Linked DNA regions of Homo sapiens: region 2 is linked to region 1. A link means that fine-mapping ties the variant in region 1 to the expression of a gene that starts in the linked region. Tissue or cell type: cerebral cortex. Region 1 holds a variant in brackets; the other region holds the start of a gene. All regions are shown on one strand. Distances are between the middles of the regions.

Region 1 (2,897 bases):
TCAGGACTCGGGAGAGCCAAGTCTCAGCCCCTGCTTTGCCACTCTCTGGCTCCAAACCCCCTGCTCAGCACGACCCTACTGAGTCCTTGTAACCACTGGGCAACACAGACACAGTCTGTCAGCGAACTAAAAATATATGCTCCCAAATACAAAAGTAAAACTACAAGACTGAAAATCAATACAATTTTAATTAAATGTCTGCCAAGGGAAACATCATGTGGACTCTACTAATTGTTCAGTGCAGGATTCTGAAATGTTTCATGACATCTGAAAACAATTAGTAAGTTAGATCTTCTCACTTTGCAAGAATTCCCAGGTACGCATGAGGACTGCAGAGCAATCGCAGCCAACACAGCCAAATAACTTCAAAAGCACAATTACAGAGGCCAGGCACAGTGGCTCATGCCTCTAATCCCAGCACTGTGAGAGGCCGAGATGGGAGGATCACTTGAGCCCAGGAGTTTGAGACCAGCCTGGGCAACATAGTGAGACTCCATCTCTACCAAAAAAAAAAAAAATAGCCAAATGTGGTCATGCACCTGTGGTCCCAGCTACTGGGGAGGCTGAGGTGGGAGGAACCCTTGAATCTAGGAGTTGGAGGCTACAGTGAGCTATGATCACATCACTGCACTCTAGCCTGGCCAATAGAGCAAGACCCTGTCTCAAAACAAAACAAAACGAAAGTAAAATTATCAAAATCTTTTCAGCTCTTTTTGGGTAAGGAAACAAGTATTCAATGAAGGATGCAGGTAAGTTTTAGTGTTTGCTTTGATGTTGGATGGGACCTTGAAAAGGAAGTCTGCCTAAGACCTTAGAAGCTCTGCAGAAGGTCCTGAGCCTGCTGGGCCACAGCTTTTTCATGGGTAAGATGGCCCCTAGGGCCATCCATGGCCATGGCTCCAGCTCACTGAAGGTGCCAGCTCATCTCTGGTGCACAATCGACAGTCACCCTCAGAGCCCTGTCTCTCCCTCCAGCTCAACATGCCCAGAATCAAACTTAATCTCTTTGCCCGGAGCTGGCCCCTTCTCTGAGCTCATCACCTCTATTAACAAGACATTGTTTTCTTGTCACATAAGCATGAGACCTGGAGGAAGGGCCCTTGCCATCCGGAAGTCTGATGGGGAGCCCATGCTGCAGAAGGAAAACGAGGGGAGGACTCAAGGGGCTGAGTCCCTTGCTGAGGTCATCGGGCCAAAGCCGAGGAGGAGCTGGGACAGAACTGAGCCTGGGGTGCCCTGCTTCCAGGGCTCCTGCTTATGTGGGCTTGGCCCTGCCTGGAGACCAGATCAGGCCACTGCCAACTAGACTGTGTTCCTGAGGGTGG[G/A]CCAAGCACTGCGTGGGGTGGGGGTGGGGCAGCTCTGGTCTCCAGGCTGCCCGGCAGCATCTCATTAGAGCCACTGGGAACTGGGAGTTTTTCCTGTTTTGCTTCCCACTGTGCCCTCTGCTTTTATTTACTTATTTATTTGAGTCAGGGTCTCACTCTGTCACTCAGGCTGGAATGCAGTGGTGCAATCATGGGTCACTGCAGCCTCAGACTTCTAGACTCAAGCAATCCTCCCACCTCAGACTCCCAAACGGCTGGGACAACAGGTGTGCACCACCACACCTGGCTAGCGTCTGGTTTTAGCACAGTGGTTGGGACACAGCAGAGACTCAAAAAATGTTTGCTGAATGAATGAATGAATGAATGAATGAATGATCGAACAAACGAATGAATGAACCAACTGGAGCCAGAGGGCAGTGGCAGGCAGAAAGAAGACAAAGGTTTCAACAGCTCTGCCAGAGCTGGGTCTCCCCCTCCTCCTCTCTCGGGAGCCTCCACTAGGGGGCAGTATGGGGCAGAGGCCAAGAGCATGAACTCAGCTGGAGGGTAGGTTCAAGGCCGTTGCCTTCACACACTTGGGTGCAGAGGGACCTTGGCCAAATGACACAACCCCTCCGAACCCCTCCACATTCCTTCATTCAGAATATGAGAACCCCTGTTGTTCCTCCCAGTCTTCATTTTACCCAGCTAACCAACCCCAGGGGAGAGGCAGCCCTCCCATGTGGCAGATGGACAAACTGAGGCCCGGGTGGCCTGCAACATGGCCTGTGCCCCCACCTCGCCCCCACTCACATTCAGTTCGATGATCCAGAGCAGGGAGATGAAGAGCAGGTCGAAGGTGACGAAGAGACAGAAGGTGCGGCGGACATCAGAGATGGCCCTTCGCTTCTCAGGCGGCGGAAGGAGGTGCGAGGAGAGGCTCTGGCTGTGGGACAGTGAGGAGCCCAGGGAGGCCACGGCAGGCAGGCTGCGCTCCAAGTCTCGGGTCAGCTCCCTGGGCAGCTTGCTCATCCTGGTGGGCCCCCACCTCAGGGCGGGGAGGGCGCGGCCTCAGCAGCAGGGCTGGGGGCGAGGCAGAGGCAGAGTCCTGTCAAACTCCTCCTGTCCCTCCCACACAGCCACCAGGGCCACCACTGGCTCCCAAACGCATTTGTCTCTACACTGGGTCCCAAGCCCAGGGCCCAGGGCACTGTTGCCCAAATGTCCTCCACCAGCCTGGCTCCCAGGCTGCAGGGTTGAGCATTCCGCTAATTATCTGTCCTCCTTCCTGGTGCTCCCTGCCCCAAGCCCAGCAGCCACAGGGTTCACCCCTGGAGGGCTCTGGGGTCCCTCTGCATGGGCACCTACCCCCTCCTGGATCCCTGGGGCTGTAGCCTGCTCCTACCAGGCCTAGCCCTGAGCTCCAGCCTCTGGTCCTGTCAACAGCCTCTGGGCCTGCCACCACCCCCAGGAGAAGAGGGCCCCAAGCTCTGTTCTTTGTTTTCCAAGCACAAAGCCACATTCCCTCCCAGCAGCCAGTCTTCCCCTCCCACCCCCTAATCCATGGCAACTGGGAGGGCCTTCCTAGAGCAG
Region 2 (2,897 bases), 27 kb after region 1:
AAACAAGCTGGATCCAGCTTTTCAGAAGGAGACTGAGCCAGCGCACTGCAGGCACCCCCCACCTCCAGCTGAGGCTCAGGGACCCAAAGGGGCCTGGGGGACCTCTCTGGGGGCCTTGGTTTGGGCTTCTTTTCCAGTCTCTGTAAGGCTGCAGAACTCTTCACCCAGTCCTTGTGAGAAATGAAAAGTTGCCCTCCTTGCTACGTGAGCCAAGCAGCAACTGACCGCCCCCCTCCCCGCCCCGCCCCTCAGCTTGGCAATCAGACCAACTGTCAGTTAATTAGGTCCCTGTTGAGCTCCAGGGAAATGCACAAAGAGAACCAGGTGAGTTAAGCTGAAACTGCCACCTCCCCAGCCAAGCTCCCCATGACACCCTCATGACCCAAAGCTGCTTAGGCCCAGGACTGTACCCCCTGCCCTCTATCTCCCCCCATAATGACTTGGCCCCCTCATCACTGCTCAGTGGGGAGCCAGCTGCATCTCAGCTCAGCAACAAGTGACCCCTGCTCCACTAGGGATGGGAAGTGGAGCTCTCTGTCACAGCACCCGCCAGCCTTTGGAAGCCCCTCAACCCCCAAGAAGGCCCTCAGGAGGACTCAGTAGTCTGTGGGAAGAGGTCTGGCTTTGTGATGACTCCCCACCTCTCCCTCCTTGGGGTTGGGGCTCTGGGGCCTGACAGCAGGAGGCCAGAGCCAGGTTCTGGAGACCCCAGCCCAGGCACACACGCGGGATTAGAGAGGGGCAGGGTAGTGGATTCACCCGGTGGCAGCCTCATACTCCTGCCCTGGGTGACAAGGTCAGTGTCCACCGCTGCTCACATCTGACCAGCTCTGGGACAGAGCCAGGCGGAGCGGTCCCGGTGGTAGCCTAGGAGACTGACTACCCTTTGGGGACTGTGCTGGGACCAAAGGACGCCCCCACCCCACTCCTGGGCGGTCTGGAATCGGCCTGTCCCCCCACCCCCGCACCCCCAGCCTCACTGCCAGGAACTCTCTTGCCCCGGGATCAGGACCAAAGCCGCGGGGAAAAGTTGCACGAGTCTCCAGCTAACTTCACACGCGGCCCCGCGCCCCGTCCTGACCGAGGCAGAGCCCGGCTCTCCTTGCGCCCCCACCCCCAGGCCAGTCCGGCCGGGGCAGCGCCTTGGGAGGGCGAAGAAGCCCCGCGGGGTGTGTCGGGTACGCTGCCGGGGTGGGGCACGGGCCCCTTACCATCTCCACCTGGCGGGGGTCGAGCTGGCTAGGGGGCGCGGGCACCGAGAACTGGATCTTCTTGCGGTCCTTGGGGTCCATGGCGCGCGGGGTGGGCGGTGGGGCTGGGGTGCGCGACTCGGGGTCCCGGCGGCGGTCTGTGCTGGGCTCCCCCGCGCAGGCGGCGGGCTGTGCGGCGAGAGGAGGAGGAGGGCTGTTCGCGCACGGATAAAAATACCGTGCCCGCCGAGGGGAGGGCGCGGGAGCGGGAGGAGGGTCGGCGCCCGGGCTGGGCGCGCCCCCAGGCTCTCGGGACTCGGGGCTCGCCCCCCGCGCTCGCTGAGCCAGGTCTGTGCCTCGCTCCCTCGCGCTCCCCGGCCTGGGTGTCTCTGCGTCTCGGTGTCTCTCCCCTCCTGAGTGTCTCTGCGTCTCGGTGTCTCTCCCCTCCTGAGTGTCTCTGCGTGTCTCCTCTCTCTGCCTCTCCCGTCCTTCTCCACCTCCCTCCCTCAGCCTCTCCTCCTCTCCGCGTGTGTCTCTGCCTCTGCCGGGCTCACCCTCCGGTCCCAGCTTTGGGGTCCCCAGCCCGTCCCCTCCGCCTGGGACTGGCGCCCGGGTGCTCGGAGGGAGGGTTTAGGGGAAACTGGCCAATGAGCATGGAGAATCGTGTTCTCCTGGGGCTGGGAGGAGGGTGGGAGTTAGAGCCAAGGCCTGGGGAGCCAGCTGGGGGGCCCCCTGCGGTCTCCCCAGAACTTGAAGCTGCATTATTGATGGAGTCCAGCAGAGAGGATAAAGGGGGAGGGAGGGGGAGAGGGGCAGCGGGGAGGCAGGACTCTGGCTTTAACCCCTTCGTGGTCCTGGTACTGGGAGTTTCAGAGAGGCCTGCGAGGTCGTGGGGAGAGTACCAGCCTGTCACGCTGTGAATGGGGGTGTCCTGGAAAGGGAGCGAGTGTGACCGAGTTGTGTGTGGGAGGACACGTGTCAGTCATCGTGGCAGGGAGAGTGTGCAGGGGTGTGCCGGGGCCCTGTGGTGCCCATAGCCAGGGAGTGTGTTTTGGGGGGTCCGGTGTGGTGTGAGTGTGTCTGTGTAAGTGTGTCAGAGTGTCAAAGATGCAGGTGTGAGTGGCAGGGTGTGGGAGGACTGCGTGTGTGCGGGGGAGGGTGTGGGTGTGGGGGAGGATGTCAGAGGCTGTCAAGGTGATGGGCAGGCGTGTGCCAGCTTGCAGGGGGTGGGGGACTGTATCCACAGCTCCGCTGTGCAGTTGCTGGGGTATGAGGTTGTGGATGTGTGAGCGCTCCTGTGAGGGAGAAGGGGAATGTGCCCTGCCATGATGTACTGTAGATTCACGTGGCTCCTGTCTTTCCTCTCCGGATCTAATGGGGTGGGGAGGACAGGGCCGGCCCAGAGTTGGGGTGGGTTTGGGGGCTGCCTGTACACGTGCCATCACGTGCATGAATTTGGTGCATTCAGAAGCAGGGTTGGGGGAGACAGGTGTGAGCCTCTCTCTCTCCAGAGGTATTTGTGTGTGTCTCTGGAGCGGGAGCGGGAGGAGCTGGCCCTGTGGGTGGAATGTCCCTGTCTATTTGGTCTATTTGTCCGGGCCTTGGGTGCCTTTGCAGGAGCTGCTGTTTCCCTCCTTGGAGCTGTGCAGAGGGTCTGAATGCTTCTGTCTAGCACTGAGAGGGTGTGTGTAGACGTGTACATGCATG

Direction of the effects. Positions count from the first base shown, and alleles are read on the strand shown. Sizes are in standard deviations (SD) of each study's normalised expression.
In carriers of allele G in region 1, the expression in cerebral cortex of the gene that starts at base 1,733 in region 2 tends to be higher than with A alone (small effect, 0.30 SD a copy in GTEx).

What was found. PIP is the estimated chance that this variant, and not a neighbour inherited with it, causes the effect. A credible set is the group of variants that fine-mapping cannot tell apart.
Region 2: it holds the start of PPP1R1B, and the variant in region 1 is the best candidate, but not a certain one, in a credible set for the expression of PPP1R1B in cerebral cortex (GTEx, PIP 0.72).

Annotation. Positions count from the first base shown.
Region 1 is chr17:39,652,971-39,655,867 of GRCh38, reverse strand. It overlaps STARD3 (StAR related lipid transfer domain containing 3), which reads right to left. Exons shown (of 15, transcript NM_006804.4): 2 at 2,118-2,387. The coding sequence starts at 2,336. Among named protein-coding and RNA genes, the nearest start is that of TCAP, 11 kb to the left of the region's middle. RefSeq lists an enhancer at 1,305-1,866. The variant G/A (reference allele first, on the strand shown) is at 1,326.
Region 2 is chr17:39,625,788-39,628,684 of GRCh38, reverse strand. It overlaps PPP1R1B (protein phosphatase 1 regulatory inhibitor subunit 1B), which reads right to left and starts at 1,733. Exons shown (of 7, transcript NM_032192.4): 1 at 1,212-1,733. The coding sequence starts at 1,292.